2 linked regions of the Homo sapiens genome follow. The protein of the gene in region 2 purifies or fractionates together with the protein of the main gene of each other region. This does not show direct contact. Each region holds a gene or a part of one and is shown on either strand. Other genes may lie near its edges.

Region 1 (3,500 bases), on a different chromosome or scaffold from region 2:
GCTGCCTCCCAAATGAAAGTATTTAAGCAGATGCTGAATAACAACTAAGCATGTTGTAGAAGGGGTGTATATATAAGGAGAGGATGGAAGAGATGATCTGTGAATTAACCTGCAACTGAAATTATGTGATTTTTATGAAATAAATGATACAGATCTGTCTTTTTTGGCTATGCCAGAAAAAAATAACACTGAAATAGTATTATAGTAAACAATTATTTCTGTATTTATCAAGCAATACAGAACAATACCTTTATGAACAATACCTCATTGAAAAATGAAAGGTAGATTTCATTGCTATTCTTATTTGCAGACAAGTAAAACAGCAGAATAACTTGTCCAAAGCCACAAAGCCAGAAAGTGTCAGATGAGATTCTAAACCCTAGTATGTACAATTTGAGTAAGCTCTCAAAAACACTAGCACCCAGTGCCTCATGGACAAAACCATATCCCCACTTGTAACTTCCTACCAAACCTGCTCCATTTCAAACTGATTCAACAATAACAGGTACACTAAGAGGAAGAAGGTGACATTTTTCAAATATTCTGTGTATGTAAGAGATAGATAATGGTTTTAAGAAATTTTAAAACTCATTAAAGAGACGAACCTAAAACAAAACAGACAAAACAAAAAGTTCTAAACAGAAAATAAGACAGTATTCAATGTCATTGACCAAAACCTCTTTATCAACAATGAGGAAAATTACTTACAATTTGTGTTCTCTTATTATCATCTATAATGATGTGGAGTAGTCTTTCAACAAGAAAAGAAACCAGGGATATTGGGATTGTGGGTAAAATAAGAATCTCCTGTAAAACAGCCAGCAGTTTTTTTCTGCAGTCAAAAAGAACTAATTTAAATATTATTATGACAAAACATGTTTTATCTCTAACATTCACCTACTCTGCAAACTTAATTACATTTGCCTCAGTTCTTTCACTTAGGTTTATCACTATAATAGGTACAAAAATCTGTATGTACAGACTTTAGGTCAAATATTCTTATTCCACACAAAAAAAAATTTTTATAAAACACCCTATGATTTTTAATAAATCAACATGATAAAATGACAAAATACCAGAAATGATTAAACCTTTTAGAAAATGCTACTAGCCTTAATAAATCTAAACAGAAACTTTTAACCAAAAACTGCAATTTCATTGATTTATTCTGAGGAAATTGAACTAGAAATATAAATGTATGTGTATATATGGAAATATGTAGAAGGGAAAAGAAAACTTTTTATACCACTTTAGAGAGCTAGGGTAAATATGTTTAGTTATATTGTAAAAGGACTATATTTCAATATAAGAAATTAGAAGGGCAAATTAGAATGAGTGTTAACATTTAGACATACCTTCCTCCTTCTTCACTGGTATCCAAAGACTTAATAATTAGAATCAATTGTTGACCTATGAATTCTTTTGTCATCAAATTTCCAATATAGGAAAAATCACCTCTGTGTTCTTCATTAACAACTGGAATGCTCTGGATGTAACTAAAACAAGCAGAATTAATAAAGTAGAATCTTTTAAGAAACATCAAACAAGAGTTGATTCCCACCATTAGGTCAGAAAAGGGCCATTTTCAGGTCATATTCGTCTAAATACATATCTATGCCATGTAATTTGGTCTACAAACTCAATTCTATGCCACTGTCATTAACTTTTGCAAACAAACTTATTGATGAATCAAAAGAATTTGAAAATGTATTTTCAATAATGACTCAAATTTTCTATGGGAAATTTTCAAAAGGTACATATTTATGTCTAACTGATAACTAATTATTTCAATGTCACTAGCATTCTCCCAATTACAGATGGTCCCCAATTACAGGTGGCCCAACTTACAATTTTTCAACTTTAGGATGAGTTTATCTGAGAATTAAACTCATTTGACTTATGACATAGCCCCACTTTAAGTCAAGAAGCATCTATCAAGTTCTGAATCCCTTACCCAAAAATCCAATTAGTCATAAAGATCTAATCTTCAGCCGGGCACAGTGGCTCACACCTGTAATCCCAACACTTTGGGAGGCCGAGGCAGGTGCACCACAAGGTCAGGAGTTCGAGACCAGCCTGGCCAAGATGGTGAAAACCTGTCTCTACTAAAAGTACAAAAAAATTAGCCAGGCATGGTGGCTACTGTAATCCCAGCTACTCAGGAGGCTGAGGCAGAAGAATTGCTTGAATCCAGGAGGCAGGGGTTGCAGTGAGCCGAGATCGCACCACTGCACTCTAGCCTGGGTGACAGAGAAAAACTCCATCTCAAAAAAAAAAAAAAAAAAAAAGATTTAATCTTCATCATGCCTAATTATCATTCTTTTATTTTTAAAAATTGTAACAATAGTTACACAAGTAATCCATGAATACAATTATCTTTTTTGAAAAAAATCAGAAAAATAGAAACAATTTCACAAATTTTTATTATTCTTTCTTAGAAACCCTACTAATCTCTGTATACACCACCACCATCAGCTACCTTTTATTTTAACTTTTTATTCTTACTACAGACATCACCACCCAAACTAAAGCCCTTTATAATCCTCACCAAGAAGGCTGTATATTCAGTAGCCTCTGCTTTTTGTGTGGAATAAAAAAAGCTACTTAAAAGCAGAACTAAGAATTGAAGCTTAGACAGCGAAGTGCCTTTAAGATGGAAGTAACATGAAAAACAATCCTGATCAAAAATGTCATTTAAAAAATGTCAAAAATGTCGCCGGGCACAGTGGCTCACACCTGTAATCCCAACCACTTCGGGGGGTTGAGGCGGGAGGATCACTTGACATCAGGAGTTCAAGAAGAGCCTAACCAACATGGTAAAACCCCATCTCTACTAAAAATATAAAAACCAGCCAAATGTGGTGGCAGGCACCTATAATCCCAGCTACTCAGGAGGCTGAGGCAGGAGAATTGCTTGAACCTGGGAGGCAGAGGCTGCAGTAAGCCAAGATCACGCTACTGCACTCCAGCCTGGGCAACAAAGCAAGACTACGTCTCTTAAAAAAAAAAAAAAAAAAAAAAGGCGGGGGTGACAAAAACCAAGTTACAGAAATTGTGGTATAATGTATAATGAGTATACTCTCATGTATTACAAAGTGATGACCAAGAGTAAATAAAAGCTCATAAATTTCTGGCCACAAGATTAGGACTTTTAAGACATCAGCCACCCTTTGGGTTCTAGTAGGAAACTAAGGAAAACTACACTACCGATAACTATCAAAATCAACCAATCAGTAGAGTTACTCTTTTCTGACAGGCTAAAAGAAAACCTTCATTTATACTCATCTTTGTATCTCTCCCCACTTCTCCAGCCCAGCTTTAGCAAAATGCACAGCATCTTGACTGAGTTTTTTTTTTTAAGTAAATTCAAACAGTTGTTTAATTAATAGATTAAAAATCCTCAACTGCATAAATACAACTTAAAACTGACCCACCAATTTTAGTTACCATGAAATCCTAACCATTTATAAAGACATTTATTATAATGAAGAGACCACTCA
Region 2 (5,646 bases):
TTTATTTATTTATTTTTTATTTTTTTGAGACAGAGTCTTACTCTGTCATCCAGGCTGGAGTGCAGTGGCGCAATGTCAGCTCACTGCAACCTCTGCCTCCTGTGTTCAAGCAATTCTTGTGCCTCAGCCTCCCGATAGCTGGGATTATAGGCTCACGCCACCACGCCCGGCTAATTTTTGTAATTTTAGAGGAGATTAGCTTTCACCATGTTGGCCAGGCTGGTCTCAAACTCCTGGTCTCAGGTGATCTGCCTGCCTTAGCCTCCCAAAGTGCTAGGATTACAGGCATGAGCCACCACGCCTGGCTACAGAATCACTTTCTTAGTATCCTGTCTGAAGAAGTTCATTCTGAAAAAGACAGCCAGGTGCAGAGGCTTGCAACTATACTCCCAGCACTTTGGAAGACCAAAGCAGAAGGATTGCTTGAGTACAGGAATTTGAGATCAGCCTGGGCAAGAAAAGTGAGAACCTGTCTCCACAAGTAATCAAAAAATTAGCCAGGTGTGGTGGTGCAAACCTGTAGTCCCAACTACTTGGGAGGCTGAAGTGGCAAGACTGCTGGATCCCAGGAGTTGGAGACTGCAGTGAGCCGTGTTTGTACCACTGTACTCCAGACTGGGTGACAGAGAGAAACCCTGTCTCAAAAAATAAATAAATAAATAAAATAAAAAACCAAAATCCCCCACAAAGTCTCTAAAAAAGGAGAAAAAGACAGTATTTCGAATTGTTTCATAATGTATACATATTTTTTGAGACAGAGTCTTGCTCTGTTGCCCAGGCTGGAGTGCAGTGGCATGGTCTCGGCTCATTGCAACCTCTACCTCCCTGGTTCAAGCGATTCTCCTGCCTCAGACTCCCAAGTAGCTGGGATTATAGGCATGCACCACCACACCTGGCTAATATTTTGTATTTTTAGTAGAGATGGGGTTTCTCCATGTTGGCCAGGATGGTTTCGAACTCTTGACTTCGTGATCCGCCTGCCTTGGCCTCGCAAAGTGCTGGGATTGCAGGCGTGAGCTACCGTGCCTGGCCTTTATAATGTAATTTTTTTAATTAAGGAAAAGATGGCAAGCAAAATAATTAGTTCATATGGCTGAATTATAAACTTCTGAGAAGTTGTTTTAAAGTACTCCTATGAAATATGAAATAATTGTTCTACAGCTGAGAAACTGCCCTAAACATACAGCTTGTTCAAAGACAATACCTTGTACCATAATAAAGTCCAATTTACCTATACTTGACACTAATTCTCAACGAATAAAAATGTAAACAATTACTGAGGTTGAAGCTTAACTTGGAAGAAAAGTTTCCTGTAGAAATTTGTAAGATTGCAAGGAGTACCAGCTGACATAAAGTTTAGCCTTGAGAGAATATTAATGAAGTTAGTTTCCTATCTCATTACAATGAAACTTCCAAATAGTTTCTAGCAGGTAACATTTTGTTAGCCTTGATTTCACATTTGAAAGAAAAATGTATGTTTCAAATTCGTAACTCAATTTTTTTTTTTTTTTTTGAGACGGAGTTTCACTCTTGATGCCCAGGCTGGAGTGCAATGGCGTGATCTCGGCTCACCGCAACCTCTGCCTACTGGGTTCAAGAGATTCTCCTGCCTCAGCCTCCCAGGTAGCTGGGATTACAGGCATGCACCACCACACCCCGTTAATTTTTTTGTATTTTTAGTAGAGACAGGGTTTATCCGTGTTGGTCAGGCTGGTCTCGAACTCCTGACCTCAGGTGATCCACCTGCCTCGGCCTCCCAAAGTGCTGGGGTTACAGGCATGAGCCACTGTACCTGGCCCATAACTCAATTTTACCGCAAATTCCCAATCTCTTTTTGAAGAATAAAATTTCTGAAGTTTTACTAAATTACAAAGGTAACATGATAATCCCCTTCTTTCAATTTCAGCAGAATACAAATAACAAAACAGCTACAAAGAGTCATGTATACTCTGCTATTTTTAGTAGAAACACAAACACTGCCAGTTTAGTAGTAAATGACAACTTTACGTTGAAGGATATTTACCAGTCATGCTGAACACATGCCACACAGAAAAATAATTTTTTTTTTTTTTGAGATAGAATCTCACTTTGCCGCCCAGGCTGGAGTGCAGTGGCACGATCTTGGCTCACTGCAACCTCTGCCCTCCGAGTTCAAGTAATTCTCCTGCTTCCTCCCAAGTAGGTGGGATTACAGGTACCTGCCACTGTGCCTGGCTAATTTTTGTATTTTTAGTAGAGATGGGGTTTCACCATCTTGGCCAGGCTGGAGAATAATTGTTTCCTTATCAAAACAAACAGGAAGGAGTAGTTAAAATAAGTTTTGGCCATAAAATAAACCTGTGTTTTGACTGGGTCAGCAAGAAGTAATTTAAAAAATGTGCAATAGCTGATTAGACTTCTAAGATTCTGGTGAGTTTTGACTTCAACAGTTTAAACAAGTAAAATATTACACCAAGACACAGATTTGGTTGGCAAATAAGCTTTAAAGAAGGAACATTGACCAGGCGTGGTGGCTCACGCCTGTAATCCCAGCACTTTGGGAGGCCGAGGCGGTGGATCATGAGGTCAGGAGTTCATGACCAGCCTGGCCAAGATGGTGAAACCTTGTCTCTACTAAAACTACAAAAATTAGCCGGGCACGATGGCAGGTGACTGTAATCCCAGCTACTCAGGAGGCTGAGGCAGGAGAATTGCTTGAACCAGGGGGCGGACGTTGCAGTGAGCCATGATCGTGTCACTGCGCTCCATCCAGCCTGGGCAACAGAGTAAGACTCTGTCTCAAAAAAAAAAAAAAAAAAAAAAAAAAAAAGAACATTGTTATCTGTAGGAATCCTACATAGATATCCTGTGAAAAAAAAAAAAAAAGAAAAAATATTCCTCAGGGAACGGAGACTCTTTCAATGTTATTATTTGTAAATGAGAGTAAGAAAACAGCAATTTGCGCAGTATAGAGTGAGAACAGTAATAGCATCTTGCAGAAGAAACAAGTTAGGCGATCAGAACATGGACACAATAGCTCTATGTTAATATAAAAAACGTGCGATTTAACTTAACATGCACATGAGAAGGGAAAATGCTCAGACAGAATCGAGAATTTCAGAGAAAAAACCACACAACTCCGGATGAGAAAAACTGGAGTTATGGTGAGCCCTCACACAGCAGTGCAAATGTAAATTCTATAGAGAGGGATAGAAAAAATTCAGATGTCACTCACCAGTCATTTTCAGACTCAAAGTAACAAACAGAAATGAGTCGTGCTCCACTTCCCACAGCAAATTTGTTCTCTAGGGGGGACCACTTCACAAAAGTAGCTGCGCGATTAATTCTCAGGATCACCAGGGTTGGCTTCCAAACACCATCTTTCTGACTCCAGACATAGGCATTGCGGTCTGCCCCACAAGTGACAATGCGGTCGCTCTTGGGAGCCCAGTCAATACCTGCAAGTGAGACATGGGTCATCTGCTTTGCCCAGTCAATGACAAACAACTGCGGCACAGGCAGGTGGGTGGCACTGGCATGCCAGGATGAGACGTGGTCTTGGGACCTTCCTCCCAGGCACATCCTTCCCACTATCTATGTCCTGATCACCGCCTCAAGGAAAGGCAAGGATGCTTCTCTGCAAAGCGTCTGGGACTCGGGATTGTCTATGAGGTCATGTAGAAGAGCTGTTTTATAATTACAGACTTTACAAAACTAAACGGGGCCATTCTTTCCACCCATTCACACATTTCTAAGACTTCTAAAGATCTGAAGATTCATTACTTCTTTCTTTCCTCTTTATTAGATTTTTGTGTGTGTGAAAATAACTGTATTCATTAACACACCTCATTCTATGATATTAACCAACAGTCTGCTACATGGCATTCAACTAAAACAGCATACAGGGTAAATAAAAATAATCTTTAGTGTAAAGAGGGGGAACTATATATTGTGATTCATCATATATTCTTCTGAAAGTCACTGCCAGTTGAACCATACTGAAAACCTTTTCTACATGATGCAGGTCCTGTGAAAGAATCCTTGTTTCTTTGCATCTAAACCAGGAAGATACCTAAATATGTATCTGAATGTAAGGTTTATTTTTCTTATTTGATGAGACTTTACTTATCTGGTACCTCTGTGAAGAATCCCAAAGTCAAGGTCAGTTTTTCATATACCAAGACTCAAGGTCAGTTTCTTATATACCAAGAGCAAAATTCACCATGACTCATTTAACACTTATTGATGAGGTATTTTCTTTTCTTTTCTTTCTTTTTTTTTTTTGAGATGGAGTTTCACTCTTGCAGCCCAGGGTGGAGTACAATGGCACGATCTCAGCTCACTGCAACCTCCGCCTCCCGGGTTCAAGCGATTCTCCTGCCTCAGCCTCCCGAGTAGCTGGGATTACAGGCAGATGCCACCATGCCCGGCTAATTTTTGTATTTTTAGTAGAGACGGGGTTTCACCATGTTGACCAGGCTGGTCTCGAACTCCTGACTTCAGGCGATCTGCCTGTCTCAGCCTCCAAAGTGCTGGGATTATAGGCATGAGCCACAGTGCCTGGCCTTGATGAGGTATTTTCTATAAATATAATTTCACATTAAAAAGTACAGAAATATTACTAATAAATATTTATTACAGATCTCTCTCTAAAAATTAATAATTAGCATTCTTGACATTTATATGGAAAAAAGACAAATATACCTCTGAGCCTCAATTACCCATAAGTCATAGTGACTGAAGAGTTAGGCCGGGCGCGGTGGCTCTTTGGGAGGCCGAGGCAGGCGGATCACGAGGTTAGGAGATCGAGACTATCCTGGCTAACACGGTGAAACCCTGTCCCTATTAAAAATGGAAAAAATTAGCCGGGCGTGGTGACAGGCGCGTGTAGTCCCAGCTACTTAGGAGGCTGAGGCAGGAGAATGGTGTGAACCCGGGAGGCGGAGCTTACAGTGAGCCGAGATCGCACCACTGCACTCCAGCCTGGGTGACACAGCGAGACTGTGTCTCAAAAAAAAAAAAAAAAAAAAAAAAGTAGTATGAAGAGTTTAGTTTATTCATTCATTTACCCACATGAAATATCAGCTCAATTTTTTGTACCACTGAAGGGAAGAAAATATGAGAATGTGTTCTAAGTGATGTTTATTTTATTTATTCATTACAAGATAATTTTGCTTGCTGTCCTCTTTATTAGATTTTTTTTTTTGAGACAGGGTCTCACTTTATCACCTAGACTGGAGTGCAGTGGCGTGATCATAGCTCACTGCAGCCTCAACCTCCCAGGCTCATGAAATCCTCCTACCTCAGCCTCCTGAGTAGCTGAGACTACAGGTGCAAGCCACCATGCCTGGCTAATTTTTTGTAGAGATGGGGTTTCACCATGTTGCCCAGGCTGGTCTTGAACTCCAGGGCTCAAGTGATCTGCCTGCCTCAGCCTCCCAAAGCACTGGGATTACAGGTGTAAGCCTGATCAATATTTATTATTATTAAAAAGAAAAATCATTATCTTTTAGAGATGCAAACTGAAATATGAAACAATATAATGTCTGGGATGTGCTTCAAATTAGTACAGGAAAGGAGAAAGTGAATTGAGAAGAACAAGATTGGCTGTTACTCGATAATCGTGGAATGCAGGTGATGGGTATAAAAGGCTCATTATACTATTCC

What was found. Proteins that work in one complex are often made in the same cells at the same time.
Region 1: the proteins of ARPC1A (region 2) and NCAPG purify together in Homo sapiens (affinity purification with mass spectrometry; 3 studies listed by BioGRID and IntAct, with this or other methods). This does not show direct contact.

Annotation. Positions count from the first base shown.
Region 1 is NC_000004.12:17,820,979-17,824,478, reverse strand, and holds part of NCAPG (condensin complex subunit 3), read right to left. Parts: intron 1,497-3,500; coding exon 1,356-1,496; intron 833-1,355; coding exon 709-832; intron 1-708. UniProt on the Homo sapiens protein: Regulatory subunit of the condensin complex, a complex required for conversion of interphase chromatin into mitotic-like condense chromosomes.
Region 2 is NC_000007.14:99,342,084-99,347,729, reverse strand, and holds part of ARPC1A (actin-related protein 2/3 complex subunit 1A), read right to left. Parts: intron 3,438-5,646; coding exon 3,215-3,437; intron 1-3,214. UniProt on the Homo sapiens protein: Probably functions as a component of the Arp2/3 complex which is involved in regulation of actin polymerization and together with an activating nucleation-promoting factor (NPF) mediates the formation of branched actin networks.